Regions from separate parts of the Homo sapiens genome. Here regions 1, 2, 4 and 5 are each linked to region 3. Evidence: fine-mapped expression QTL. A gene starts in region 3. Each other region holds a variant in brackets. All regions are shown on one strand. Distances are between the middles of the regions.

The links. PIP is the estimated chance that this variant, and not a neighbour inherited with it, causes the effect.
Region 1: its variant is the best candidate, but not a certain one, in a credible set for the expression of TBC1D2 in monocytes after Pam3CSK4 (Quach 2016, PIP 0.53).
Region 2: its variant is the best candidate, but not a certain one, in a credible set for the expression of TBC1D2 in whole blood (TOPMed, PIP 0.63).
Region 4: its variant is the best candidate, but not a certain one, in a credible set for the expression of TBC1D2 in whole blood (INTERVAL, PIP 0.81).
Region 5: its variant is the best candidate, but not a certain one, in a credible set for the expression of TBC1D2 in whole blood (TOPMed, PIP 0.78).

Annotation. Positions count from the first base shown.
Region 1 is chr9:98,211,578-98,217,770 of GRCh38, forward strand. TBC1D2 (TBC1 domain family member 2) reads right to left here. Exons shown (of 13, transcript NM_001267571.2): 7 at 1,531-1,641. Among named protein-coding and RNA genes, the nearest start is that of MIR6854, 15 kb to the right of the region's middle. The variant C/A (reference allele first, on the strand shown) is at 2,005.
Region 2 is chr9:98,227,721-98,233,913 of GRCh38, forward strand. It overlaps TBC1D2 (TBC1 domain family member 2), which reads right to left. Exons shown (of 13, transcript NM_001267571.2): 4 at 5,696-5,829; 5 at 1,232-1,428. MIR6854 (microRNA 6854) reads right to left here and starts at 1,497; the gene lies at 1,429-1,497. The variant C/CT (reference allele first, on the strand shown) is at 3,020.
Region 3 is chr9:98,252,574-98,258,766 of GRCh38, forward strand. TBC1D2 (TBC1 domain family member 2) reads right to left here and starts at 3,076. Exons shown (of 13, transcript NM_001267571.2): 1 at 2,600-3,076. The coding sequence starts at 2,968. RefSeq lists a silencer at 3,091-3,140 and an enhancer at 3,311-3,800.
Region 4 is chr9:98,124,628-98,130,820 of GRCh38, forward strand. It overlaps CORO2A (coronin 2A), which reads right to left. Exons shown (of 12, transcript NM_052820.4): 8 at 5,167-5,263; 9 at 3,980-4,092; 10 at 3,543-3,633; 11 at 1,922-2,196; 12 at 1-278. The coding sequence ends at 147. Among named protein-coding and RNA genes, the nearest start is that of TRIM14, 8.5 kb to the left of the region's middle. The variant G/A (reference allele first, on the strand shown) is at 2,857.
Region 5 is chr9:98,273,070-98,279,262 of GRCh38, forward strand. No RefSeq gene overlaps it. Among named protein-coding and RNA genes, the nearest start is that of TBC1D2, 21 kb to the left of the region's middle. RefSeq lists enhancers at 785-1,318, 1,351-1,885, 1,886-2,418. The variant C/A (reference allele first, on the strand shown) is at 2,639.

The DNA.
Region 1 (6,193 bases), 41 kb before region 3:
CTGCCATGATCTCTGGGCCACCCCGAATCCTATCTCATCCTGGGGTGGCAGCAGGGGAACAATTCTGTTGCACCCTTGCCCGGTCGCCATCTCCAAACACTTGCCGGGCACCAGCTCCAAGCCATCCTCTGTGCCTGTTCTTCTACCTATCCCACCTGGTGCCCACCTCTGTTGCCTGGGCTGCTTCCTGAGTCCCATCGTTAACACCTGTTTCAGGGATTCCTTTTTTTTTTTTTTCCTGAGAGAGTCTCGCTCTGTCATCCAAGCTGGAGTGCAGTGGCATGATCTTGGCTCACTGCAACCTCTACCTCCGGGGTTCAAATGATTCTCGTGCCTCAGCCTCCTGAGTAGCTGGGATTACAGGTGTGCACCACCACGCCCAGCTAATTTTTGTATTTTTGGTAGAGGCGGGGCTTCACCATGTTGCCCAGGCTGGTCTTGAACTCTAGCCCCAAGGGATCCACCTGCCTCGGCCTCCCAAAGCGCTGGGATTACAGGCCTGTGCCACCGCACCTGGCCCCTTCTCAGGGATTTCTGCTGCTGATTCCAAACAATCTCCCTACTTCCAGGCCCACCTTCTCAAGCCCACCCTCCTGAGCAGTCACAGCAGTCTTCTTGGAACAGGAACAGAAGTCTGATTGAGGACTTCTCCACTCAGAATCCTTCAGCTCCCCAGTTTCCTTGGAGTAAATTCCAAACTCCTCAACTCCAGCCTCATGTCTCACTCTCCCTAGCCCTGCCCCCCACCTCTCAGACCACACGTCTTTACTATGCTGTCTCTTTTCCTGGAAGGTCCTTCTCCACTGCTTGCCTGGATAACATTAACTCATCCTTAGGACTCAATTCAGAAGGTACCTCCTCCAGGAAGCCCTCCCTGACTTTCCTTCCTCCCTTTGGGCCCCCAAGAATCCCACAAGTCCAAGTGCATCTTTTTTTTTTTTTGAGACAGAGTCTTGCTCTGTTGCCCAGGCTGGAGTGCAGTGGCGCAATCTCGGCTCACTGCAAGCTCCGCCTCCCAGGTTCACGCCATTCTCCTGCCTCAGCCTCCCGGGTGGCCGGGACTGCAGGCGCCCGCCACCATGCCCGGCTAATTTTTTTTTGTATATTTAGTAGAGATGGGGTTTCACCGTGTTGGCCAGGATGGTCTCAATCTCCTGACCTTGTGATCCACCCGCCTCGGCCTCCTAAAGTGCTGGGATTACAGGTGTGAGCCACCACGCCTGGCCCCAAGTACATCTTGATTGGGTTACACTCCCTCACTAGTCTATACCCTCCTTGTAGGCAGGAACCAGCCTTATTGGTCTTGATGTCCCTACCCCACAGCTACTCAGTGAACGCTGCGGAACAAATGACTCAATCCCCCGACCACAGGGGTCTGGAGAAGAACCTGATATGGGCCCTGCTCACAAGGGGTCAGTTCAGAGGGAGAGGGGCAGACAGGAAATGAGGAGAGTGAGACGGAGTGGGCAGCATGGGGACCAGCAGAGGGGCCAGGGATGGAGACGGCTGGAATAGGGCCCCACCCCGCACCTTCGTCAGAAGGGCCTTCTCCTTCTCAGCCACCTTTCTCCAGATCTTTGTGACCTGGTGGATCTCGGAGTTGAGGAAGCAGTTCTGGGTCCGGTAAGCTTCCATGTCATCCTGGAGAAGAGAGTAAAATATGTTATCAGTTGGACATAAACATCTCCCTGGTCCTGGGGAGTCACACCCTCAAATGAGCCCCCAAAGCTTCTTTTCCTTAGAAATTTCCAATAATGGCAACAGAAGAGGAAGTCTGAAAGAAAAATAAAATACTCATAGCACCCTTCTCTATTCTTGATGTCAGCATGATGTGGTAAAGGGACCAGTAGGTCTGAATTTAAGTCCTGGCTGATGTTCTGGCTGGAAGGCCTCAGGCAGGCCACTGAACCACTCTGACCCTCTGTTTCCTCATCTGTAAAAGGGGCAAATACCAACTAACCTACTGGGCAGTTGGGAAACTAAGTGAGATAATGTGTGACAACA[C/A]TAAGTACAGGGACCAAAACATAGCAAGTGCTCAAGTAGTGTTTGTTTTTAAAATCAACATATTTTATCATATATTTACAATCATACTGTAAAATTAACTCAGTGTCACTTTGTAAAACCTTTCAATGTTGCTACATAAGCTTCCCAGTGATCATTTTTAACCTCTGGTGATGATTCTATTGGGTGAATTTACCAGAACTTACTCATAATCCTTTTCCTGTCATTTTTTAATTTGAACCTGGGGTGTTTGCAGTTGGTTTTTGATTATGAATAATGCTGTGATAAACATCTCTGAGTTTTCCTTTTGCAAGTTGCCCATCCAGTGGAGGGAATGAGCTCCCTGCTGCTGGGGCATACAAGGAGAAGCCAGACAAGCACTGGGAAGGTTCAAGCAAGGACCTGAGCCTCAGAGAAGGATCAGCTATAGCAGTGGCTCTCAATTCTGCTGGGATGGACATTACAGAAGCCGTTCAGTCACGTAACACATTCTTAGAGCTATACCTCACAATTCCAGGGTATTTACTGGCTGAAACTCAGGCCCTTTCTCTCCCATTGATGTATGGGCTGGAGGTGAGTGCAAGCGATGCTGCAGCAAGGATGACTCCGACATGGCCAGGTTGATTTGGAAATGAAGAACATCACATGTGCAAGCGATGCTGCAGCAAGGATGACTCCGACGTGGCCAGATTGATTTGGAAATGAAGAACATCACATGTGCAAGCGATGCTGCAGCAAGGATGACTCCGACGTGGCCAGGTTGATTTGGAAATGAAGAACATCACATGTGCAAGCGATGCTGCAGCAAGGATGACTCCGACGTGGCCAGGTTGATTTGGAAATGAAGAACATCACATGTGCAAGCGATGCTGCAGCAAGGATGACTCCGACGTGGCCAGGTTGATTTGGAAATGAAGAACATCACATGTGCAAGCGATGCTGCAGCAAGGATGACTCCGACGTGGCCAGGTTGATTTGGAAATGAAGAACATCACATGTGCAAGCGATGCTGCAGCAAGGATGACTCCGACGTGGCCAGATTGATTTGGAAATGAAGAACATCACATGTAGTTTGGGGCACATCCTCGTCAGGGTCACATGTGCACAGCCCACAGGTGGTCCTGGCCCTCCCTGGGTGGGTCTTCACTCTGGCCAAGATGATCTCCAAGGTCTCCCCAGGCTGGAAGCTCCGATGCCTGCCCAGGGGCTGCTGCCCTCCGCCCAGAGCCTGACACACTAGAAGGGCCTCTGCTCCCAGGGGAGGGAACGAATGCCCCCTGTTGACTTTATCACATCACCCCTCACCACTCCACGGGGGCTCTCTGTGGTGCCCCAACCCAGGCCACCCCTGCTTTCATCTCCCTCGCTGTGCCAAGGCTGAAAGGCTGTGCATCCACTCAGCTTGCTCTCTGCCTTCTGGCTGGACCCAGGCAGTTCCAACCCCTGGCGCCACCCTCCTCCCCCTATCCAATCCTGTCCCTGACCTAGATAAAAAACCAGCTTCACTGCCTCTCAAAAATGCTGCTGTGTGCGCCAGCCGCTCTGCTGGCAAGTTTCTGCCTGCTTCTTCTCCACAGTCCCCATATCCTATCCTTATGTGGCAAGAAGTGAAAATCTTGTTTGTGGCACAGGGACCAGTCTCCCATGAGCATCAGGCCTTTCCTGGACCACTCCCCACTCTCTCTGGAGTCTAACACTTTACTGTCTGGAGATATAGAAACTTATGAATACAGAGGCTGTGCAGGCTTCCGGCATCACCCCCATCACCAACACCACGCAGCATATATTCTCTCACTTCATCCTCCTAGCAACCCTAGAAGGGATGTTCTTTTATTATTCCTATGACACAGATGAGGCCTCAGAGGCTCTGAAAGGGTAGGCAACTTGCCTAAGGCACAGCCAGTATAAGGCAGATGTGACCAAACCCAGGTCTGTCTGATTCTTTTTGTTTGTTTGTCTTGCTCTGTCGCCCAAGCTGGAGTACAGTGGCGTGATCATAGCTCATGGCAGCCTCGACCTCCTGGACTCAAGCAATCCTCCCACCTCAGCCTGTCAAGTAGCTGGGACTATAGGCAGGCACCACCATGCCTAGCTAATTTTTTGATTTTGTAGAGACGAGGTCTCACTATGTTTCCCAGGCTGTTTTCAAACTCCTGGCCTCAAGCAATCCTTCCACCTCGGCCTCCTAAAGTGTTAGGATTACAGGCATGAGCCACTGTGCCTGGCCAGGACTGTCTCATTCTAAAGCCCTAATCACCAAACTTCCTGCCGGGCACCATCTGAGCTCCCCACCAGCTGGAATCCACCTGGATGCCCACACTCTAGTCCCTACCCTCCAAGCGTTGTCCTTTGGTGTCTCCTGGCTACACGCATGCAGGCTTATGTGACCTCTCCTACCCATCAGACAGTATAACAACACATCAAAGACGCTGGAGTTGGCCATGTACCGGCACCGCCTGGTGGTCAGTGGCATGAATGCTGCGGGCACGCTGTCTGGGTGGAAATTCTGTCTTGACCACTGAGCCCCTGGACAAGTTACTTAACCTCATCCTCTCATCTGGAAAATGAGGATAATAACAGTACTACCTCATGTGGCTGGGAGAGGATTCAGTGAGTTAATATGTGCAAAAGGCTCAGAACGGTGCCTGGCATGTGGCAAGTGCAACGTGAGCGTGAGCATCGTCTCCCTCACTGAGTTTGCATGACAGCTCGAGAGCTACTATTCCCCACCCTGCACCCACCCCCTCAGTCGGCTCACAGAGTTCGGAATCCAATGCCCGGGAAAATACAACAAGCCCCCCCGCAAGGGAGGAAAGGACCTACCATGACCTGACCCATCTCCCTCATATCCACAAGGCTGTGGGATAACTATTAAAGTGCCCTAATTCCCATTTAACAGATGAGGAAACACACACAGAGAAAGTAAGTTCCCCTTGTCACGAAAGAGAGCCAGGATCCAAACCCAGGTGTGTTCAGCCCATGGCAGGTGCTCAGCAGACACTGCGTAGAGAAAGCAGACCCAGCTCTGGCGCTGGCCACTGCTCCACACCACTGGGTCTCCCTCCTTGATATCACCCCTTCCTCCTCCCAGGCCTAGATGTGCTCATGGATATTTATTTATTTTTCTTTCTTTTTTTATTTTTAGAGAAAGGGTCTCACTTTGTCACCCAGGCTGGAATGCAATGGCATGATCATAGCTCACTGCACTCTTGACCTCCTGGGCTCAAGTGATCCTCCTGTCTCAGGCCCCTGAGTAGTTGGGACTACAAGTGTGTGCCACTACACCCAGCTAATTAATTTTTAATTTTTTAAAAAGGTCTCATTATGTTGCCTAGGCTGGTCTCAAACTCCTGGCCTCATGCAATCCTCCAACCGTGGCCTCTCAAAGCACTGGATTGTGAGCCACCACGCTTGGCTACACACTGTTATTTCTAAGGCTTTGGAAAGAAGGCTTTTGTCACATAAGATACCCTGCTTCCAGCTCTAGGGAAGGCACAGACATGCCGGACAGGGAGGCAGAGTGAGCACAGCCTGGAACAGCAGTGGCAGTGGGTGGCGTCGGGCAGTACCTCCCCCTCCAGCTCGATGCCCTACCTTGAGTGCTCGTCTTGGCTCAGAACTGTAGGGAGGAAAAAGAGAAACCTCAGAAAAGAGAAAAGCCACAGGACAGTCACCAGTGGAATGAAAGAAGGAAAACCCTGGAGAAGGGGGACCAGGGAAGCAGGAGCCCGGGAATTCTCTTTGGGCCATGCCCATGGACTAGGCCCTGTGCTGTGTGGAAGGCAGTGGCCTGGGCATGGGAGGCCAGGTTCCGGCTGTAGCCCTGCCTCTTGCTGCCTGACCCTGGGCCAGTCCTTCTCCCTTGCCCCAGCTCAGCTGTCCCTGCCAGAAAATGAGTGGGGCAGACTAGATTTCTGAGTCTTTCCAGATCTGATATTCAAGAGGTCAGTGATCCTGTTCTCAAAACCAAAGTCTGAATAACAAGGGGCATTCCCTAAAGTTGGGTTCCTCAATCACAGGGCAGGCAGGAAACCTCAACATTCTCTGTCCTCAAACTCAAGACAATGGATATTTGATGGGTATTCTAAAAGCTAAAAACTAAGGAACACCAACTACATGCAACTCTTTCTCTTTTTTATTTTTTTTTTAATAGAGACAGTGTCTTACTCTGTTGTCCAGGCTGGAGTGCAGT
Region 2 (6,193 bases), 25 kb before region 3:
GCAGTGAGCCAAGACTGCACCACTGCACTCCAGCCTGGGTGACAGAATGAGACTCTGTCTCAAAAAAAAAAAAAAAAAAGTAACTTCTGACATGCCAGGAATGAAGCCTCTGCCGGTTCCCCTGAGATCTGCTGACAGTGGTCACTGCTTAGGGGCAGAAAAGGCAGACGAGGGGCCAAACTAGGTATAGGGAGAGCATTTTTTCTAGATTTCTTCCCACCAAAATAGGGCAGAAAAGAAAAGAAGAAATGTACAAGTTATAAGAAATATTCAGAAGGTAATAGGGCATAAGCCCCACCTCCCCAGCCTAAGTCCTCTGGAGTCAGGGCTGGAAAACAAAGCAGAAAGGGCCTCCGGGCAGCCAAAGTTCAAACACAAAAGCTTAGGCCTTCCTCTAGAGGAAAAGGAGTCTGGGCCCTCACTGGAGCCCGCCACTGCCACCACAGGTCCTACCAGGCCCCACCGTTGGGATTTATGTAACAACTGCCTAACTTAGTCGCTTTTATCACTCTAAAGAGGGGCTCCCGCCCGGAGCTGCAGCCCTCTCACATCTTTGCCCTGGGACCCTCACTACTTCATAAGGTAGCCCCTGGCTTTTAATACCATTTACTCTCTGGGATGTAGGATTTTGGAGTAGTTTTAATGTCTGTGTGTATGAGATCTGTTTTCTACAATTATTATATAGCTCTTGTAACTCTCGTAATTAACTTCTTACCATATTAAGCCCAAATATTCCTTTCACTGTTTCTGTGTTGGTCCTGGCTTAGCCCTGGGCCACACACATGCTGCTTGTTTGCTTTCTCCTGTGACAGTCTTGTGACGGTCATTCAGATATCTGTGCCCAGATATCGGCTGCCAGGTCAAAGTTCCCCCCAGTTCTATCGACAGCCCCTCCCATGACCCTGCATCCAGATCACCTGCCTCTAAATAATGTCATTTTCTGGGTAGGGGGTGAGACCATGCATGGCCCTCCAGGAGGGGTCCAAGAGACAGTTATTAGAGTAGATCTCCAGAGATACCTGCCCTTGGTGCCCTTTTGTGACTTACTTTGAGTGACATCAGGTTCTTGAGTAATCAACAGCATATTTCAACATTCTGCAGTTTGGCCTTTAAAGACCAGAGAGTAGCTGGTGCCCAGCACGGCTAATGCGTCCCATCTAGCTTATCCGAAAGGCTCCAGGAACTGGAGGGGTCCACTGGAACCTGGGGCCTCCCTGGGACCAGACCTCACCTTCTGAGACTTTAACTCCTTGGTGAGCATCAGAACCTGTTGCTCCAAGGCTGCCACTTTCTCCTGGGCAGTTCGGTTCCGTGTGATTCCTTCAGAAAAGAATGGGAAGGTGTTGTTCTGGCGCTTGGCTTTCTGAGCGAAACTGATGGTCAGAGAAGGCTTGGGTGCAGGCTTTGGAGAATCCTCTGGCTCTCTCCCTGCTCAAGAGGAGAAACGCAGAAGTTATGACTGATGACATCAGCAGTTCTCAAACCTGAGCTTGCTTTAGAAGCACCTGGAGGGCTTGTTAAAATGCGGATGGTTGGGCCCTAATTTCGGAGCTCTGGATTTAATAGGTCTGGGGCAGGGCTTGAGAATATGCACTTCTAAAAAGTTCCTAGGTGATGCTGACACAGCTTGTCCAGGGGTTAGACTGTGAGAACCACTGGCCTACATAAACGTTATTGCACTGTGCTGGCCCATCTGCTAAACTGTGCCTGTCTCCTTCCTTCAGATCCCACCCAGCCTGCATTGGTCTATCTCATGCCACCCTGCTGGTGTTTGCCAAGTGGCTTTCTCCTCAGGCACAAGCCCTGGCAGGATGTTCTGTTCCTTATTTCAGGATCCCACCTCTATGTACTAGGAGATTTTCAAAGCACACAGATCTGTCTGATGATAGGAACACAAAATGAATGTCTGTACTCTGCATTCTTGCTCCAGAGAGCAGCTCAAGCATTTAACTTGATTCTTCTTATTCCAAGCTAAGTTAAGAGATATATTTCCCCCACAGTTGATTGTCTCAAGGATGCATAGTCCTTTTATCTCCTGGGTTACAACCTATGGTTCACAGGCCAAATCCAGCCCACAGCCTGCTTTTACAAATAAAGCTTTATTAGAACACGGCCATGCCCATTTGTTTATGTGCTGTCTATTGCTGCTTTTACTCCTCAAAGGCAGAACTGAGTGCTTAAAACAGAAACCCTATGGCCCACAAAGCCTCGAATCGTTACTATCTTGCTCTTTACAAAAAATGTTTGCCACCCACTGTTTTTAAGTCATCAAAATTTTATTCTTAAATCAAACCAAACATCAGAGAATCATTCCCTTGTGTTGCCTTGTCCTGCCCTGACCCAGCTGTGCTTCTGGTCTCTGCCATCAGCCTGCATCAAGGGACATTTAAGGGCCTGACTATGTAGCCAAGGGCCCTTGAGAAGCTTGTTCACATGGGATATATACATCATGCCTATTATGAGTCCCCAGCAGAAGAAATTCCCTTCAGCCCTAGGAACTTCCAAGAAAAGCTTTGCTTCTTATAAGAAAATATGTTTTTAGTCTTATGGACACTGGAAATAATCTAGCTGCTTGCATTTCCCTCTTTGCCTTGGCTGCTGAGCTTACAGCCACATTTACTGCCTACTCTCAGATATTTTGTAGGATCGTAAATTGATCTTATCTAAATCTCCTAACCAAATTACTCATTTGCAGGAGTATGCATTTTAGTAAACTATTACCTATTTCTTGGGACTAAAGTGTTAAAGGTGTTGAAAATAAGAATGTGGTATGGCATCCCAGGATAGGGGACACGCAGGGCTTTGGGGATAGGCCAAATGACTTAGCATGAGACCAGGCCAAGGGCTGGCCAAACAGTCTTGAACAAATAAAGAGTTACTCCAGTAGGTGACAGGAACCAGACACTGAGTGCAAAAACAGTACCTTGCTCGGCCGGGCGTGGTGGCTCACGCCTGTAATCCTAGGACTTTGGGAGGCTGAGGCGGGTAGATCACTTGAAGTCAGGAGTTCGAGACCACC[C/CT]GGCCAACATGGTGAAACCCCGTTTCTACTAAAAATACAAAAATTAGCCAGAAATCACTTGAACCCGGGAGGCAGAGGTTGTAGTGAGCCGAGATCATGCCAGTGCGCTTTAGCCTGGGCAACAGAGCGAGACTCTGACTCAAAACAAACGAACAAAACAACAGTGCCTTGCTGAGTGCAAAACCAGAACAGTCTTGTTCCAGATCGAAGAGAAATCAGGTTACACTGGGTACAAGGCAGCCTGCAGAGCTCAGAAATATGTACTACCTCTTTCTCCTTCCTGTAATGGGGTATAGGGGAGCAGGGAAGCTCCTTGTAGCACTGCTGCCCTCTGATACATGACTGTGCACCAACTCTGAGGACAGGCAGGGCAGGCCTCACAGTGCCCAGTTTATAATTAGAGAAAATAAGGCCTAAGACAGTGGTGTTCAATCAGTGCCCTGGATTTCATAGGAGTGCCTCAAGGGCTGACTGGGAGAGGAAGGTGGAGTAAGAGGAGCAGAGGAGGAGTCCAGACTCCAACTCCAGCCTCAACTCTGCTTTTTTTTTTTTTTTTTTTTTTTTTAATTTGTAGCTCATTTAGAGTCTCAAAAAGAATTTAGGTGTTTTTTATTAGTGTTCAAGAAACTCATTTGTACATATTAGAAAAGATTTATTGACATAAAAATAATCTTTTCCTCCATTTAAAAATCTGATTACAACCACTGTTTAACACAGTGTAAACACCGTTTAACACAGTTTAACACAGTGTTGAGATATTCAACACTTTATTAGAAAATAGGTTTTGTGTTAGATGATTTTGCCCAAATGTATGTGTTCCAAGCATGGTTAAGATAGACTGGGCAAAACTATACTGTTCAATAGGTTAAGTATATTAAATGCATTTTCAACTTATGATATTTTCAACTTATGGTGGATTTATCTGCTTTATATATTAGATTTTGTTCTGTCACTCACTCTGTGGCCGTGAGCAAGTCACTCCACCCTTCCATGCCTCAGTTTCCTTATTAATCTAATGAGGATAACAACAATATATACAATATATACAGTTCCAGTTGCTGTAAGAATTAAATAGGTCAAGGTAGGTAAAGTGCTTGGTACACACAGATGAAACTTGAAAAGATTCTACTAAGTCAAAGAAGCCAGTCACAGCATGGTATATTCCTTGGTATATTCCACTCACAGCAGATGTCGAGAACAGGCACAGCCATAGAGAAAGAAAGATGAGTGGCCACCTAGGGTTATGGGGCAGTGGGGATTAAGGTTGATGACTAAGGGTGCAGGTTTCTTTTTGGGGTAATAAAAATGTTCTAAAATTGATTATAGTGACGGCTGCATAATTCTGAGGATATACAGAAAGCCACTGAATTACACATTTTAAATGGGTGAATTGTATAGTACATGAATATATCTTAATAAAGTTGTTGCCAAAAAAAATGCTTACTGCCGCACTGGCATGAAGTAACTGCTAGTGTTATGATGATGGTGACTCATCCGATATAGCACTGGCCTTCTCTTGGACTGCTTGTTGTGCTCTCTAGGGCTCTGCCAGGCACTGACTGCTCCAAAGGGTGCTTTTTCTTTTCTTCTTTCTCTTTTTCTGTTTTTTTTTTTGACAGTGTCTCACTCTGTCACCCATGCATGATCACGGCTCACTGCAGCCTCGACCTCCCTGGCTCAAGTGATCCTCCCAGCTGAGCATCCCAAGTAGCTGGGACTACAGGCTTGCACCATGATCAGCTAATTTTTTTATTTTTTTGTAAAGACAGGGTCTCCCTGTGTTGCCCAGGCTTGTCTTGAACTCCTGGGCTCAAGCAATCCTCCAGCCTTGGCCTCCCAAAGTGCTGGGATTACAAGCGTGAGCCACCATGCCCAGCCTCTTCTTAATTTTTTACTCTGAAAAAATTATAGACTCACAGGAAGTTGCAAAGATAGTGCAGACATGTCCCAAGTACTCTTCACCAAGCTTCCCCTGATGGTGACATCTTACATAGCTATAGTACACTATCAACTCTAGGAAACTGGTGTTGGTACAATATGTGTGTATAGGTCTATGCCATTTTATCACATGTGTACATTTGTTTTTGGTTTTGTTTGAGACGGAGTCTCACTCTGTCACCCAGGCTGGAGTGCTGTGGTGCAATCTCGACTCACTACAACCTCTGCCTCCCAGGTTCAAGTGGTTCTCCTGCCTCAGCCTCCTGAGTAGCTGGAATTGTAGGCACTGGCCACCATGCCCAGCTAACTTTTGTATTTTTAGTAGCGTGGTGGTATTAACAGGTGGGGCCCTTGGGAGGTGATCAGATTTAATGTCATGAGGGTGGAGCCCCTGATAAGATCAGTACCCTTAGAATAAGCAGCAGAGACCAGAGCTCTTTCGGCCACGTGAACACACAGTGAGAAGGTGGCCATCTATCTGCAAGCCAGGAAGGGAGCCCTCACCACACATTGAATCTGCCGGCACCTTGATCTTGGACCTCCCAGCTTCCACACAACTGTGAGAAATAAGTATCTGTTATTTAAGCCACGCAGTCTATGGTGTTTCAGTAAGTAGCCCAAGCCAACTAAGACACACACAAAAGCACAAATGCTGGTTCGCTGGAAGGAAAGAAGGCACTTGTGCCAGCCGTGAGGAGCTGGTCCCTGAAGGCAGCTCAGCCCTGGACAGAGGCTCACCTGGGGTGCTGGCGTCAGAGGCCAAGGGCTGCTCCTCCCTCTGAGGCTCCCCACTCTGTGGAGAATCTTCCCCTGGAGGTTCATGGCCTGTTCCCTGGGCCTGCTTGTTGCCACGGATGTTGTGCATTGTGTTCCTGAAAGGAGACAAGAACAGAGGAGCATGAGGCTGAACCCTGCCTTTCTGCCCTTCTGTCCTTCCCGCCACCACTGCTGGAGCTCAGGTCTCATCCCCACACCCTGTCATCCTGACTGGTCTCCCAGACTCCAGGCACCCTACATGATGCCTCCCCATGCATGGCACTCCCAATCTCCTTTACCTATCTCTTTCGCATTCTCATCTTCCACACACTATGTGGCTTATAAGTAATACAAGCTTGACTTCCTTAACCCCCACCCCTGCAGCTGGAATATAAATGCCATGAGGCGGAGGTATTGTCCGTTTTGTTAACTGATGCACCTACAATGCCTAAACGGTGCCCAAAACATAGAAGGTGCTTA
Region 3 (6,193 bases):
TAACTCCTGGATTCTTCAGGAGGGAGGCAAGGCAGGAGTGAGCACCCCTTTCTACAGATGGAGAAACTAAACCTCTGAAGTTGCCCAGGCATGTGGTGGTAGAACTAGTCCCATAACCCTGGTCTAGAAGTTGGATTTTATGGCCAGGAGATTAGTGGCTTCATAAAGAAGGCCTGAGATCAGCTGAGGTGGACTGCAGAAGATGAACAGCTCACCGGGCGTGGATGGGGATTCTCAGAGAGCTGCCTGCAATCAAGGCCACATGAGAACAACAGCGGGCTACATGGCAACAGAGGCAAACTCCCTATCTCAGGGGTTCACTGGTGTGCACTATGCAGGGGGGAGTCTGTGAAAGTGACCCTCAGGCTGTCACACAGGTATCAATAAGATAAATGATGCCCACCAGTGTTCTCTTTCCATACACTCTCTCAGAGAGACTGCAGCACCTCCCAGGTCTTCCCCATGACCTTAATGCTGATGAGCTCCAGCCGAACCCAAATACCCCATTTTATTAACTCATTTGACAAGGGTATACTGAGCATTGACATATGTGTCAGAGATAGTGCTAGGCACTGAATACAGGGGTGAGCCAACACACATGGTCCCTGTCCCCTTGGAACTTGAGAGTCTCCTGCAGGGGACATGTACCTGGATGTTCCATGGGCTCCTCATCCTGAGTTCCCTCCTGTCAGTGACTGACCCAACCAGGCAGTCAGCCAGTTACTCCAGCCACTCCTGACATCTCCCTCATTCTATTTCCCTACTATCCCGAGACACCTCCATTGTCCCCTTCCCCACAGCCACAGCTCTAGTTCAGCTGTCACTCTCTTCTGATCACCTTCTGATGGGCTCCCTGAGTACCAGCCTTGCCCTTCCCCTAGTTTCTTCTCTATCCAATAGTCAGACTGAGCTTTTGCTACTTGGCCTAATTTGCCAATTCCCCACCCTCGGGCCTCTGCTCTTCAACTCCATCCTTTGGGCCCCTCTGTTTTTCTGGCTCATGTGATTTGCCTGGACACTCAGGGCTGTATCATGGTTTCCTAATTTGCTCACGGTGCTCTCTTGGCCTGGAATACCTTTCTCCCTCTTGTCTGCTTGCCACCTATTTCTTCTTTCAAGCCTTGGGTGTGTCCCTCCTCCAGATGCCTTTCTGGCTAGCCCCTTCCACTTGGTGGAACTGACTCCTCCTGTCACCACACCTTCTTGCACAGACTTATCACATGTCTCTACAGAACATTTCAGGGTGCATGCAGGTTCTCCCTCAGTCTCTCCCACCAGACTTTAAGCTGTCAGAGAACCAGGGGTGGGGGTGCATTAGCTCCACACCCCGCCAAGCGCAGAGCCAGGAACAATGGAATACTATTATAAAGACCATGTGTTGAAGACCCTGCATACAGCAGTCAACCTGTGGAAGAGACACATAGACCCGGGAACCACATGACCTCGAAAATGCCTTCCCTGGCCAGGGATTCCTGAGTTTCATTATTTTAACCAAGTCCCCCAGCCTGGTCACCCGCCAAGTCCAGTCAGTAAAGGAGAACTGAACACGTGGGCATCCACAGATACCCACTTAGCTGGAGTTGGGGTTGGAGGGGTGGACAGATGGGGATGGGGTGGGGAAGGCTATCTCCTGGCACATTCTTCTCTGATGCCCATAGAACACTTAGCCCAGATCTGTCTTTCCAATTAAGTTATGGGACACCTCCTCTTGACATTAGCACTCTGACCTTGGTTCCATCACCTTGTGTGTGCATGTGTGCTTATGCAACAAAAAATTATTAAGTACTCCACTAGGTACCAGGCTGTATTCTAGGTGATGCAATTAATTCAACAATTTGTACATGCCTGTGATGTGTCAAATGCTTACAAACCACCTAGGTTCTGAGAGGTTAAGTAACTTGTCCAGGGTCACACAGCTAGTAAGTAGCAAATGTACAATTTGAATCCAAGCCCGTCTGATTTCAAAGAATGTGGCCTTTCTACTGCTTTAGGCTTTCTCAGTTACACATGATGATAAAACCTACCCCTTGCTGCTGATAGGAAAACAGGTTTAAGCATGCCTAGATGAACAATCTAGGCTGATCAGTGAAACCTAAGTGTTTATTTTCCTAATCCCTGCCAGTCTCTTCTCAGCATTCACTGACCTTGGCCAAAATATCAAGAAACGGGAATCAGAATCCTGGCCTTGAGAGAGGATTGCAAAGACCATATTTTGACTTACTTAGGTCCCAGGTAAGAAAGTTAAGGTAACTGCACTGTCAGGCACACCCAAAAGTAAAAGTTTTGATTCAGCACTGAGAGGTAGAAAGACTATGGGATTCCAAGCTACCCTACTCTCTAGACGCATGGACCTCGAGCCAGTCCTTTCATCTCCCTCTGACTCAGTTTCTTGATCCGTAAAATGGGTCTGTCTTCCCTGCCTTGTGGGAACCCAATGAGGAAATGGGTGGGAATGCACTTTGCAAAGCACAAAGTTCTTGGAACTGTCGTCACCGACACTCCAAATTTACTGTGTCCACCTCACACTCGCGCCCAGCCTTGCCCTGCGAAAAGGGGACCTCACGCCGCTGGAAAGGAGAAAGTCGTTGCAGGAATTTACCTTCAGGGTAATAACCCGGCTGGGAGTCTTGATTTCGAAGATCCCCTCCTCAGCGTCCGCCTTACAGTCAAACACTGCACTGGAGAGGTCGATGCTGTCCAAGGGATTGGCATCCTGAGCGGTCCGCGAGTAATACAGCTGACATTTCCTTTCGTCGTAGAAGAACCAGCGGGATTTCCAGCCCCGGATGGGCCCTTTGCCGCCGAACTTACTTAAATACCCACAGAGTTTCTTGGGGACCGCCTCCAGGGACCGGGCGCAGTCCCCCGATTCTTCCTCCGGAGGCGGCACCTGTGGATCCCTGGCAGACTCTTCGGACCCAGGGGCAGAGGAGCTGGACTCCGGGGCGTTCTCCCCAGCGCCCTCCATCGCTGCCAGCCGGAGACTGCGGAGGGACGAGGGGTCCGCGGGACCACCAGGGACAAATCTCGGAGACTCGGCGGGCAGCTTCCCAAAGGGAGACACCTGGGCGGGGGCGGGGCCGACGGCGAACCCGCCCCCAGGAAGCCACAGAGTCGGGACCGGGTGCGGTGCGCGCGCCTCAAAGATCGCAAACCCAGGTTACGGCGGCTGGCCACGCCCCTCCACCGCCAGGCCACGCCCCCGCAGCGCTCAGTCGGCTCCCTGCAAAGCCCAGCTGCTTCCGGCTTTTTCTCCGCGCCAGTCAGCCATCTTTACTGAGGGCAGCCGTGCTCCCTGGCTTCAGGTTAAAGGCGTGGTGGCACTGAGTTAGGTTAACCGCGGGCAGAGAAGCCTGTCCCTAGCTACACTTCCCTGGTAGTTCGCATAGTCACCTAGAAAGATAGTGCTTTCTTGCACCCGATGGGCTGCTTGTTCCCTCCCTGTGCCGCGCGGGGCACCCTCGGACGGCGCATCTCGCGGCCATTGGCTGAAAGGAAGACCGCTGGGAGGCCCATCTTCCGGCGTCGCCCGGGCAGCGCGGCTCCGGAGCTGTCTGCCACTCTTCTCCTGGTGTTCCTTCAGCCCCGTCAGTGACGCCGCGGACGGCCTTCTTATCCCTCGCCTGACAGCAGTGGCCTCCCCAGCTCTCTGTCCTGGCTCCTATTCGCCTCCTGACAGCGCTGGTTGTGTTGCTTGGGGCGCCCAGGCGCGGCCGCTGCGCTGCGGAAACCCATGCCACTCCTGGGTCATAGTTGGGTGCAGTACATTTATTTTTATTTTGTTATTGCTATTATTATTTTTAGAGACGGTCTGGCTCTGTCACCCAGGCTGGAGTGCAGTGGCGCGATCAGAGCTCACTGCAGTCTCCGCCTCCCGGTCTCAAGCCATCCTCCCGCCTCAGTCTCCCGAGTAGCTGAGACCGCAACTGCGCACCACCACACCCGGCTAATTTTTAAATTGTTTTTTGCAGAGAGGGGGGTCTTGAACTCCTGGCCTCAAGCGATTCTCCTGCCTCGGCCTCCTAAAGTGCTGGAATTACAGGCGAGAGCCACCGCGCCAGGCTGTTTTGTAAATAAGTAAAAGAATTTAGGGTTTGACTAACTTGCTCAACTTCTGCCTCATTTTACCTGTTTCCCCTTAAACTTCTCCCCTTCCCTCCTAAGGCGCATTTCTCCATTAGGGTTGCGGAGCCCAATTGCGTCCAGCTTTCTTTAGGAGCTTCTTTCTGCCTTTCTCTTGCCCTTTGTTCAGCCTTTCCTCTTACTTCATCGTCTCCCCCTCAGCCGTCGTTAACGAGACCCTCATGCACACTCAGTGATATTGACAAGAAGCAGGGTGGGGGTAAAGGCGAGGGCTCTAGAGTCTATTTGCATAATTTTCAGATTCCCACTCTGCAATACTGAGTGATTTGCTCAACCTAAAAATGGAGATAACACTTCTTCCTACCCACCCCCGACCCGCCGCCAGACAACTTTACGGTGAAGCTAATGAAATTTATGTTCACTTGCATGGGTCGCTGGGATTTGTAGTCTAACAGGTGGGGAGTTGCAACCAGGGAGCATTTCTCCTAAATGCCAGAGAGCTCTTCATTTGTTATAATTTACAATTTATTTTCTCATTCTAAATAACCATCGTCATACCTAATTTTGTGTTCATAATTTTGTAATTTTTTAAAAATCAGAAGGCCCTTAATGCTGTTTAATTCCAGTCCCCACAAAACCTGGATCTACACCTGTCTACCCTTAGAGTTGTTTTGATAATTAAATAAAATAATATGTGTGAAGCTCTTAGTACAGAATGTGGGACAAAATATTTCTTTTCTTTTCGAGACAGAGTTTCGCTCTTGTTGCGCAGGCTGGAGTGCAATGGCGCGATCTCGGCTCACCGTGACCTCCGCCTCCCGGATTCAAGCGATTCTCCTGCCACCGCACCCAGCCAGTTTCTTTTCTTTTCTTTTTTTTTAATTTTTTTTTTTTTTTTTTTTTTTGATACAGAGTCTCGCTCTGTCGCCCAAGCTGGAGTGCAGTGGCATGCTCTCCAATTCCCATTCTCCTGCCTCAGCCTCCCGAGTAGCTGGGATTACATACACGCGTCACCATACCCAGCTAATTTTTGTATTTTTAGTTGAGACGGGGTTTCACCATGTTGGCTAGGATGGTCTGGATCTCCTGACCTTGTGATCCACCGGCCTTGGCCTCCCAAAGTGCTGGGATTACAGGCATGAGCCACAGTGCCTGGCCCCATTCCTGATTTTTAAAACCTCTTAATAAAACAAACAGCATACCTTATTTGTTCTAGGTTTTGTAGCTAGGCAATGATAAATATTTGAAAGAATAATTATAAATATATTACGTATACCAGAAAAACTCAAGTGGTGGCCTGTTTTAAAAAACTGTGCATATGTGTATAGATGTCTCCAGCAGCAAACAAATGGAAAATATAATGGACAACATCCCTTACATAAATGACTTACATAATGAATACCTTATTGCTTTATAGTAGGATATAAGACAAACCAAATATGTCCCTGAGTGGGAAGAGTTAATATTGTAAAGATGTCACATTCCTCAAATTAATCCATACAGTTAATACATTTTCAATCAAACTCTCGATAGGCTTTTTTTTTTTTTTTTTTTTTGAGACAGAGTCTTGCTCTGTCACCCAGGCTGGAGTGCACTGGAGCGGTATCGGCTCACTGCAACCTCTGCCTCCTGGGTTTAAGCTATTCTCCTGCCTCAGCCTCCCTAGTAGCTGGGACCACAGGCAGGGCACCATGCTCAGCTAATTTTTGTATTTTCAGTAGCGATGGGGTTTCACCATGTTGGCCAGGCTGGTCTTGAATTCCTGACCTCAAGTGATCCATCCACTTCAGCCTCCCAAAGTGCTAGGATCACAGGTGTGAGCCACCATGCCTGGCCTCGATAGGCTTTAAAAAAACTTTTTATTTTTGAATAGTTTTAGAAAAAGTTACAGAGACAATGGGAGAATTTCTGTAGACCCTACACCCAGTTTCCCCTAATGTTAACATTTTGCTTAATCCTGGTATGTTTGGCAAAAATAAACATCTAACATTGGTACAAAACTATTGACAAGGCCGGGTGCGGTTGCTCACGCCTGTAATCCCAGCACTTTGGGAGGCCGAGGTGGGTGGATCACGAGGTCAGGAAATCGAGACCATCCTGGCTAACATGG
Region 4 (6,193 bases), 130 kb before region 3:
GAATCTCTTTCAGCGATGGAGAGTTTTGTTTTCTGGTAAAAAATATAGAAATAGTGGTTGTCCTTGAGGGGACTTGTGGTTTGGTTCTAAACCTCCCCATGGAGCCGAGTGGTGTCCCTGAGGGTGAGGAGGGCAGAGGTCTCTGCTCAGAGCTGCTCTGAGCCCATCCGCAAGTTTTTGATCTCCAGTTCCAACTGTTTGGCCTGGACCTCTCGCTGGGTCAACAGCTCCCGGAGCCTTCGGATCTCCTCCTGTTGCCGGTAGAACATCTGCAGCAACTGGGGAAGAAAGATCGGAAGGCAGGATCACCATGGTGTCAGGACACCAGCTGAAAGCTAAACCACTATCCCTCTTTGACTCAGAAAGGTGGAGGCGGTCACATTAACATGGCTGAGGCCTGATGGGGCTGTCACTGCATAGATCTTTTACAAACACCTTGTTTACTTCACCCAATAAATGAAATTCAAGAAGACTGGAATGTTTCAGATGTATTTTGCTTCCATAGATCCTCCATGAAATAGAGGAAAGGATGCCTGGCTCTGAAGTCTGGGGATTGGTGTTTTCGCCACCACTGAACTGTGTGACCTTGGGCAAGTTACTTACCCACTCTGAGCTTCCATTCCTTCCTCTGGAAAATGGGGTCAGAAAACTGCCCTCTGTGCAGAATGGGTGTTAGATATTGAGTGATGCCCTAAGGGCCTCGTTATCCCACTGGAACGTTGTGACACCCCTATAAGGGTGGCAGTGCTAGTGTCCCCACCGTACCACCGTGGAAACGGAAGCTTAGAGACATTCAGTCTCTGGGTCTAAGACCCTAAATTAGTACTCAGCAGAGCCAGGATCAGAATCCATCTGTGAGATGCCAGCCTCTGTGTTCTTAGCCACTACAGACTGACTTCCAGGGCTGTTGAGAGAATTCAATCACGTGCTGTATCAAAGTGCCTACCCCAGGATCTGCCACACAGTAGGCACTAAACAAATGTGGACTTTGAAAGCACAGAAAGTCCTATAATGTCAGAACTGGAAAGACTTTGATACCCACTAGGTCAAACCCTCTCCATTTTACAGATGGTTTCCCACCATTTTTTTTTTTTTTTTTTTTTTTTTTGAGACAGAGTCTCACTCTGTTGCCCAGGCTGGAGCGCAGTGGTGTGATCCTGGCTCACTGCAGCCTCTGCCTCCTGGGTTCAAGCAATTCTCCTGCCTCAGCCTCCAGAGTAGCTGGGACTACAGGCACGCACCACCATACCCAGCTAATTTTTGTATTTTTAGTAGAGACGGGGTTTCGCCATGTTGGCCAGGCTGGTCTCAAACTTCTGGCCTCAAGAGATCCACCCGCCTTGGCCTACCAAAGTGCTGGGATTACAGGTGTGAGCCACTGCACCTGGTCACCTGGTCCCCACCATCTTTTTTTTTTTTTTTTTTTAAGATGGAGTCTTGCTCTGTTGCCCAGGCTGGAGTGCAGTGGTGTGATCTTGGCTCACTGCAACCTCCACCTCCCAATTTCAAGCCATTCTCCTGCCTCAACCTCTCAAGTAGCTGGGACTACAGGTGTACGCCACCACACCCGGCTAATTTTTGTATTTTTAGTAGAGATGGGGTTTCACTATGTTGGCCATGCTGGTCTTGAACTCCTGACCTCATGATCTGCCCGCCTTGGCCTCCCAAAGTGCTGGGATTACAAGAGTGAGCCACTGTGCCCAGCCTCCCACCATCTTTATGTATGCCCATCATTTTGGCATAAGATGGAGCTCACTGCCTGTTTGTTGAATGAATTAACAAAATGAGTCAAGTGACTAGGCCAGGCCACACAGCTGGTTATTCTTCTCATGCCTCATTTTCTCCCTTCTTCTCAGCCTGGATCTGTTCCCCTCCACCCCAGCTGCCCCATGTGAAAGGCCCACCCCGTCCTCCTTCACACCTCATTCTCTGTCTTTGGTGGGGGGCATTCGAAAACGTCAAAGCCATTTGTCAGCCAGGTTTTCTTCTCCTCCAGCCTGTGTTCTGCTGCCCACCTTGGCATCTTCTCCTCCAACAGGGAGGAAGACCTCCAGCCATCTTCTGCAGCCAGCTTTTCTGTCTGATTCAAGAGCCGGGGTGAGGCTGGGGCCATGGAATTGAAGATAGGTCTCTCTGCAGGCAGTGGGTGGGGTCTCAGCAGCTCAGAGCCAGGCCTAAGGGACACCAGGATTGGGTCTGGAAGGGAAGCAGAGCCATGTGAGGACGGGGTGCCCACGGGAAGATGGGCATATGGGGCACCAATGACACAGGCAGGCATGCAGAGACACTCAGAGCCATGCAGACCCATGCAACATGTGTGGGAAATACAGCTACCTGTGGACAGGCCCAAACCCACAGAGCAGGGCTAACAGATACAAATACCCACGTGTGCCACCCTCAGAGTGAAGCTTGGTTTGTAGGAACAGCACGGTGCGTGCACTGAAGCAGCCCCCAAACACTTCAAACTCACATGAGACCTTGCCCTTGCTTTGTAAGGACAGTCCCACCCACACTGCACCCCACCATCTACCAAGTTCATTAGTTCTCTCACCACCTCCAGAAAGCAGGGGAGGCTGGCATCATGGCTACAGATGAGGAAACTGAGGCCCAGGGAGCAAAACCTACTTAAGGTTATCCAAAACTAGGACTCGGCCCTGGTCCGCTGCCCCCCAAGGCAGAGGCTCTTCCAGTACACCAGGAGGCCCGCTCAGCCACTGGGGTGGGGGTGAAGGAAGTTTGTGGGGGTGGAAGGGAGAGGGAGCAGCTGGGGTGACTGCTTCTGCTGGGCTGGCCCCCGTGTTGGCAGGAGCGGGAGAGTGGCTCAGGACAGGCAGAGTGGGCAGAGGGACCTGGGTG[G/A]GGGTTGCTGCCTGGAGGGCTTCTTGGGTCAAGAAGAATTGCAAAAGGCCAGGCCCAGTGGCTCGCACCTGTAATCCCAGCACTTCGGGAGGCCGAGGCAGGTGGATCACTTGAGGTCAAGAGTTTGAGACCAGCCTGGCCAACATGGCAAAACCCCCATCTCTACTAAAAATACGAAAAATTAGCTGGGCATGGTGGCACGTGCCTGTAGTCCCAGCTACTCAGGAGGCTGAGGCATGAGAATCACTTGAACCTGGGGGTGGGGTGGAGGTTGCAGTGAGCTGAGATTGTACCACTGCACTCCAGCCTGGGCAACAAAGCGAGACTCTGTCTCAAAAAAAAAAAAAAAAAAAAAAAAAAAAGAATTGCAGAGGTAGGGGTGGGGAACAGGGACAGGGAGTCTGGCTGAGGTGGTCCAGGCACCCCACATAGCCCCAGAGTGTAAAGAAGCTTTCCGTGGGGCAAAGTCCCTTGAGTTGGAGTTTTCTGAGCTCTTGGGTCAAGCCCCCTGACTTTCTGGACCTGTATGTGACCATGCTACCCACTGGGGACTGAAGGTCAAGGGCATGGCTTCTGAGGTCATGAGAGAAGAAAAATCCAGGCCCAACCCCTCTCAATTGCTTGGGGCCACTGGGCACGCCATGTTCCTGTCACATTTGCCTGGGCCTCTTCTCTGCCTTCCTCACCTCGATTCATCCCGCTGAGCCACTCCTGGGCCGTCAGGGAGGGCTGGGCCCCTGCTGTTGGAGGGTATATGTCCTCTTGGTAGGATTCTGACTGCAGGAGAAATCCAGACAGTGAGGAGGGTGGTAGGGTAGGCTGCTCAGATGGGAAAGGCCCTTAGACCTGGGAGTCCAGGCTCTCACCAACCCCTGCTGAATTGAGGAAACTGAGGCCCAGAGAACAAAGGGACTTGCCCGAGGTCACGCAGCAGCTCAAGAACAGAGGTGGACCGAGACCCAGGACTCCTGACGCCCACTGATGTCACACTGGCTGTGAGAAAGGCCGCTCTGTGGCTGCCCCATGAACGTGGGCTCCAGGCTCTGGTGCCCGACAGCCCTGGGTCTGTCTTCTCCAGGACAGGTTCCCCACCTGCCTCCCATGCGGTCCCGACTGCCCTTACCCGCCGGGGCACAATCATGGAGATGGGCTCGATGAGGCTTTTGGTTGTGATCAGCTTGTAGAAGCGGAAGATCTCGCAGGAGGACACGTCGAGTCCTCTCTTTGGCATGACACCTGAAGGCAGACAGGGAGGGCCAAGAGGTTCTGGCTAGGCTGGGGCCACAGTGTTAGGGCCAAAGCCAGGCTGCACACCTGGACCTGAACAGAGACCAGTCTCCTCCCAGAAAACAGCTCAGGGACAAATACCGACACTGGGCTGGGCCCTATGTTGGGAAATGGAGTTGAATTAATCAGACTCTTCACCTTCAAAGATTTAAATTATTTTAGCTGAATTTTTTTCTTTTTGACACAAGGTCTCACTCTGTTGCCCAGGCTGGAGTGCAGTGGCACAATCATAGCTCACCGCAGTCTCACACTCCTGGGCTCAAGCGATCCTCCTGCCTTAGCGTCCCAAGTAGCTGGGACCACAGGTATGCACCTCAATTTTTTTATTTATTTGTAGAGACAGGAGTCTCACTTTGTTGCCCAGGCTAGGCTCGAATTCCTAGGCTCAAGTGATCCTCCAGCTTTGGCCTCCCAAAGTGCTGGATTAGCTGAACTTTTATAGGCAGTTTGCTCTGCTTAAGGTTCCCCATCTCCATCCCCACAGCTCCTGTGACCCAAATGCTCTTAATCAAACCGCTCCAGATTCCTTTTGAGTAGGGTTAGCAGGGTGCATCTTTCTCCAGTCCCTTACTTTTAATCTAGCCATGTCTTTATGTTTAAAGTGGGTTTCTTGTAGATTACAGAAATATAGCTGTGTTTTTAATCCTCAAGCACACTTAGAAAGGAACTGAGGACTGCTTCCTAGAGGCTCTTCTAGGTCAGCCCTTTCCATCTCTGCTCTTGTGGTAACTGCTTAACCTTGACCTAGAACACATCCCTCTCTCCCCTGCTGGGCTCTGCTTCCTCTTTCAGTTCCTCCAATGTTGCCTCCTCTGAGAAGCCTTCCCTGACTTCCTCCTTTGTGCTGTTGCACACGTCAAGTACAGCCCCCACCAAGTCAGAGTGTTGCTATGCTGTCTCTCCTCCCATCTGACTCATCCCTGTCTCCCCAGACCCCGCACTGAAGCCCTGACCCTGATTCTCCCACCTCGGCCTCCCGAAGTGCTGGGATTACAGGCATGAACTTCAGTGTCCCTCACTTACCGATCCCCTTCTGTGGGTTATAGGAGCGGTACTCAGTCAGGTAGCTCAGGTGAGGCTTGTCGGCGCTCACCTCGTAGTAGCGGATGTTGCCATCTCCCTGAGGAGGAGGAGAAGGAAGAGGAGGGTGAGATTCAGAGCTGGAGCTCATCAGCTCATCAGCAACCCAGCCATGCAGCAAAGACCTGGCTTTTTTTGATGATCGGCAAACCCATCTCACTCAAGGGAACACCAGGAAACTGGGGGCCCTGTCATCAAGGCAGGAGGGTGATGAGGGGATATTCATTTTATTTTAGATTTTATCTTATTTTTTTGAGACAGGGTCTCACTTTATTGCCCAGGCTGGAGAGCAGTAGTGCAATCACAGCTCATTGCAACCTCCTGGTCTCAAGCCATCTTCCCGCCTCAGCCTCCCGAGTAGGTGGGACCACAGGTGTGTGCCACCACGCCTGGCTAATTTTTTATTTTTTCATTTTCGTAGACATGGGGTCTCACTATGCTGCCCAGGCTGGCCTTGAACTCCTGGGCTCAAGTGATTCTCCCACCTTGGCCTCCCAAAGTGCTGGAATTATAGGCATGAGCCACTGTGCTGGGCCTGGGCCCTTATTTTAATATTCAATCCTCCCCCACCATGACCCAAAGCCCACCCTTTTTCCTCTAAGACAGAAGCTCTGGGAAGACAAGTCCAAATCCCGCTCCTATCTGAGAGCAGCAGCAAAAGTCAGAACTGGGGTGGCCTCAGAGGTCATCCAGAAGGTCTTACCATGGGGAACATTTCTGGTTGTCATAATGACTTGGATGGAGGGGGAGAGATGCTGTTCTTGGCACTGGTGGGCAGGGGCCAGGGCTGCCAGACATGGGATAGTCCTACCCAGTGGAGACCTGTTCTGCCCCCAGTTTAGCAGGTGCCCCTGCTGAGAAACACCAATGGTCCCCCCACATCTGGGCCTGGAGTTGGGAAGAGACAAGGTCAAGGTGTCCAGCCAGAGCCCTGGCTCCAGGTGTTCCTAGGGAGCCAGGAGGGTGGGAG
Region 5 (6,193 bases), 20 kb after region 3:
AAAAGTAGAACAATTTTACTGGGAAAGGCATTTGCTTCAAGCTGACGCATGGGGTTTTTTACAGATGCTGCATTTGTGTTTAACCTGGGACCTCGGATACTCTGAGGGCCACAAAGAGATACAGAAGCCCCCCCGGGAAGAGGAAGAAGTCAATCAGATTGGCTGTCTGGGAAGCCAGCAATGGGTGTCAGGCACTTTTGGGGAGCACAAGGAAGGTTGGGCAGAATCAAGCCTCCCTGAGGAAGGGAGAAGTATGAATAACTCACAACCAATGACCTTGAAAGGGTGGGAGAAGACGTGGGTTGGGAATGTCATTATGGTTCCCAAGGCCTGCAGAGCCCCCAACCCCTCTCCCCACCCTGTCCTCTCAGAACTTCTCACCTAAACCAGTCTTAGGACTTGTAAGGGGTGGAAGTGATGCCCTGAGGTTATGGTTGGAGGCTGTCTATGGAGGTAGGGAGCACCTATATGCTTGGAGATGAGGCTTCCCCAGCTTTGAAGGATCTTACCTCTGGATGGAATTAGCAGTGGCTCCTTAGGGCTAAATGGCTATGACTGCATCCAGTGGGACTACATATAGGGATATAAATATGTGACCATATGCAATTTTTAAAACAAAAATATTGTCATTCTTTACCTATTTTTCTTCATTGCACCCCCTCCCCCTTAATATTATCTCATGGAGCTCTTTTCAAGTCAATAGATATTAGATTTGCCTTATTCCTTTTAACAGCTGAACGGTATTCCATAGTTTCACTCGCTTCCGTGTGAAGAGACCACCAAACAGGCTTTGTGTGAGCAATAAAGCTGTTTATTTCACCTGGGTGCAGGCGGGCTGAGTCCGAAAAGAGTCAGTGCAGGGAGATGGGGTGGGGCCGTTTTATAATATTTGGGTAGGTAAAGTAAAATTACAGTCAAAGGGGGGTTGTACTCTGGCGGGCAGGAGTGGAGGTCACAAGGTACTCAGTGGGGGAGCTTTTGAGCCAGGATGAGCCAGGAGAAGGAATTTCACAAGACAATGTCATCAGTTAAGGCAGGAATAGGCCATTTTCACTTCTTTTGTGGTGGAATGTCATCAGTTAAGGCAGGAACCGGCCATCTGGATGTGTACGTGCAGGTCACAGGGGATATGATGGCTTAGCTTGGGCTCAGAGGCCTGACACATAGTATGACTGTATCTTCACATTCAGGTTATTTCTAATTGTTTCTAGTTATAAATAATGTTGCAAAGCCCATCTTTAAAAAAAAAAAAATAGCCGAGGTCTCACTATGTTGCCCAGGCTGGTCTTGTCTTGAACTTCTGGACTCAAGCAATCCTCCTCCCTCGGCCTCCTAAAGTTCTGGGATTACAGGCATAAGTCACTGCAACTGACCTCCAACATTATACATATATCTTTTTAGATATTTTCTAATATTAATATAGAATATAGAACTAAAGTGGAATCGTTGGGCCTAAGAGAATGCCCACTGCTATGATTTGAATGTATGTGTCCCTCCGCAATTCATTACATTGGAAACAATACCCAATGTGATAGTATTAAGAGATGGAGCCTTTGGGGAAGTGATTAATCATGAGCACACTGCCCTCATGAATGGGATTAGCGCTCTTACAGAAGAGGTTGAAGAGGGCACCCAGTCCCTTTTGTTCTTCTGCCATCTGCTACGTAAGGACTCACCAATAAGGCACCATTTTGGAAGCAGAGGGCAAATCCTCCCTTGACACTGAAAGGGCCTTCATCAGTGGACTGACTTCCCAGCCTCCAGAACTGTGGGGAATAAATTTTTGTTAATCATAATTACCCAGTCTAAGATATTTTGTTATAGCAGCAGGAATGTTTCACGCGCATCCGTGTGAAGAGACCACCAAACAGGCTTTGTGTGAGCAATAAAGCTTTTTAATTACCTGGGTGCAGGCGGGCTGAGTCCGAAAAGAGAGTCAGTGAAGGGAGATAGGGGTGGGGCCGTTTTATAGGATTTGGGTAGGTAGTGGAAATTACAGTCAAAGGGGGTTGTTCTCTGGCGGGCAGGGGCGGGGGACACAAGGTGCTCAGTTGGGGAGCTTTTGAGCCAGGATGAGCCAGGAGAAGGAATTTCACAAGGTAATGTCATCAGTTAAGGCAGGAGCAGGCCATTTTCACTTCTTTTGTGATTCTTCAGTTACTTCAGGCCATCTGGATGTATATGTGCAGGTCACAGGGGATATGATGCCTTAGCTTGGGCGCACAGGCCTGACAGAATGGACTAACATACCCACTTATATTTTAATAGATAATGATGTCATGCCCACAAACAAATGACCATAATTTAAGTAGCAAAGAAAACAAAGTACAAGAAGATAATAAAGATAAGAGCACACATTAATGAAATCATATAGAAAAACACAGTAGAGATGCTCAACCAAACCCAAACTTGTATTTTTTCAATAGAAGAATAAAATACAACCTTGTAACTTTAGTTAAGTCAGAAAAAGGATGCATAGCAATATAACGTATGAAAAAGGGACATAATTACAAATGCAACAGATTAAAAAAATAAGTACTACAAACAACTTTATGCTAATAGTTTGAAAGCTTCCATGAAATAGACATGTTTCTAGGAAAATAAAACTTATAAAACTCACTTGCACAGAAAAAGAAAA[C/A]CAAATCTGTAACAGTTGAAGAAACTGAATTAGTAGATTAAAATCAACCTACAAAACAATTCTGCTAAACGTTCAAAGAACTGACAACTCTAGGCCAGGCATGGTGGCTCACACCTGTAATCCCAGCATTTTGGGAAGCCGGGACAGGAGGATCGTTTGAGGCCAGGAGTTCAAGACCAACTTGGGCAACATAGTGAGACCCCATCTCAATTAAAAACAAACAAACTGACAATTCTAATTTTATACAAACCCTTTCAGAGATTAGAAAAAGAGGCAACATCCCCTCAAATCATTTTACGAGGCTAGTGATGACCTTGATTCCAAAGCCAGAATGAAAAAGAAAAAATAAAGCATCAAATTTATTCATGATTTTAGATGCAAAAATCCTAAACAAAATAATGGCATACTTTAGTAATGTATTAAATAAAAAATGACCTAGTTAGGTTTACCCTAGAAATGTAAGCATCAAATATATCTACTATTAGCAAATCTAATAATGTAATTCACCAGATTAACAGATTAAAAGAGAATAATCACAATCAGTGCTGAAAAATAGTTTATGAAAATGCAACACTCATTTATGATAGCAGCTAAGGGAAATGGATCATTCCATGTACCCCATTTGGAAAAGCAGACATGATACGGGTTGGGAATGTTCCTTCACTAGAAGTGGTTGGAGGAGTCTTAACTCTTTGAGGCACAAATGCGAAATGATGGACTTTTTCCCAGTGACCAGTTGGACTCTGTGGAACCTTCTTTCCCACTTGTAGCTTCCCTTAATAATATCTCAGGCTTCTCCCTTCATGTTCAGTTACTAAGAATCACTGGACAAAATGATAGACATCTAGATCAATGGAATAGAACTAAGAATCCAGAAATAAACCCTTGCATTTATAGTCAATTGATTTTCCACAAGGATGCTAAGACAATTCAGTGGAGGAAAGAATTATCTTTTCAATTAATGGTGCTAGGATAATTGGCTACCCACATGCAGAAGAATGAAGTTGCACTCCTTACGCATACCTTACCCAAAAATTAACTCAAATGGATTGTAAATGTAAGAGCTAAAACTAAAAAACTTTCAGAAGAAAAACAGAAGTATTTGTGATTTGAGCTTAGATATGACAGCAAAAGCATAAGCAATAAAAGAAAAAAGTAAGACTTCATCAAAATTAAAAACTTTTATGCTTTAAAGAACACCCTCAATAACATGAAAAGATAACCCATTGAATGGAAGAAAATATTTGCAAATCGTGGATCAAATAAGAAACTTGTATCTAGAATACATAACAAACTCTTACATCTCAATAGGAAGAATTCAAATTATTCAACTTAAAAATGGCGCCGGGTGCAGTGGCTCATGCCTATAATCCCAGCACGTTGGGAGGCTGAGGTGGGAGGATTGCTTGGAACCCAGGAATTGGAGACTAGCTGGGCAACATAGGGAGGCTCTGTCTCTACAAAACTAAAAAAATTAGGGAGTGGTGGCTTGCGCTTGCAGTCCTAGCTACTCGGGAATTTGAAGTGGGAGGATTCCTTTAAGCCCCAGGAATTCTAGGGTGCAGTGAGCCGTTGTTATCACACCACTGCATTCCAGCCTGGGCGACAAAGTGAGGCCCCGTTCCAGAAATAAATAAATAAAAGGCAAAGGCTCTGAACAGACATTTTTGCAAAGAAGATATGTCAATGGCCAATAAGTACATGAAAAGATGCTCAATATCTTTAGCCATCAGGGAAATGCAAACGAAAACCACAATGAGATACTTCACATCTACCAGGATGGCTATGAATTTTTTTTTAAAAATAGATAATAACAAATGTTGGTAAGCATAAGGAGAAATTGGAACCCTCATACATGCTGATGAGAATGTAAAATGTTGTAGCTGCAGTGGAAAAATCTGGCAGTTCCTCAAACAGTTAAAACTAGAGTTACCATACAACCCAGCAATTCCACTCCTAGTTATATCCCCAAGAAAAACAAAGACATTATGTCCACACAAAAACTTGAGTGTTCATAATATCATTATTCATAATAGTCCAAAAGTAGAAACAACTCAAATGTTTGCTAACTGATAACATGGATAATAATTGCATAAAGTAAAATGTATACACATACTATAGACTATATTCGGCAATAAAAGTTGAGGCAGTCCTGATCCATGCTGCAATATGAATGCATTATCTTGCATTCATATTGATAACACATGAATTTTGAACCCATTATCTTAAGTAAAAGAAGCCCATCACAAAGAACCACATATTGCAAGTTCCATTTATGTGAAATGTCCAAACTTACAGAGACAGAAAGTAGATTTCGTGGTTGCTTAGGCTGGGGGAACTTGGGGAGAAATAGGGACTGTCAGCTAACTCTTCTTGGAGTGATGAAAATGTTCCAAAGTTAGATTGTGGAGATGATTGTATGAATCTGTGAATATACTAAAAAATTTGAATTGTATACTTTAATTCATTTTATTTTATTTTTTTAGGATCTCAGTCTGTTGTAGTGGCAAAATCATGCTCACTATAACCTCAAACTCCTGGGCTCAAGTGATCCTCCTGCCTCAGCTTCCTGAGTAGCTGGGACTACAGGCGTGCATCCCCCACGCCGGGCTAATTTTTAAATTTTGTGTAGAGATGGAGTCCCCTTATGCTGTCCAGGCTGGTCTCAAACTCCTGGGCTCAAGGGATCCTCCTGTCTTGGCCTCCCAAAGCATTGGGATTATAGGTGTGAGCCACCATGCCTGGCTGAATTGCACCCTTTACAAGGGTGAATTGTGTGGTATGTGGATTCTATCTCAATAAAGCCACAAAAAGTAAAGAGTCTCTGGATGTTTAAAAAAAAAAAAAAAGTGCACTCTTCCCAGGCAGGCACTTGAGGTTTCTGTGACTTGGGGCAGGGAGGGAGGTGATGAGGTTTGCTCTCCCATTCTCTATTTTCTCTGAGATATCAGGGAAAGGAGGCAAGAGAGGGGAGAGGTATCAGAACACTGCTTTCTGTGACTCCTTGCGTGAGGTTACAGTCTTCTTTCTGCTGGCATCACTTCTTTTGTTCCTATCTGGCTGTCTGTTCCTCTGCCAGGCAGGTGTCTGAGTGCTGGCTTTCCAGTGGGTCCTTCTGACACAATCCTCTGGTGAGCAAGTTCTGACTGAACTTCATCCATCTACTTTTTTCCTCAGCCTCTTAGGATGATGAAATTCTCCCAACCTTCCTCAGTGCCCACACAACCCATGGAAAACCCACATCTCCTTGCCAAGCCACCCTGTGGGAATGCCACTGGCTACCCTAGTCTTCCTCTCTTCCGCTCAGCCCTCTCTCGACCTGCCAGCAACACTGGCCTGGGCATTGGGCAGTTCAATGGCGCTGAAGTTTTCAGATGAAAGGCATTGCCAGTCCCTTACTTGGTGAAGGGGAAAGGGTCTGGAGGAATACTTAAGCTACCCCCGATCTTATGGAGGGAGGGGAACTTATTTAAGCCTTCCCGGCTCCCCCATGGGATGAGAAGAGATGGCTGCTGCTCATGAATTCTGCTCTCACTTGCCTCCTCTTCTTCCCTG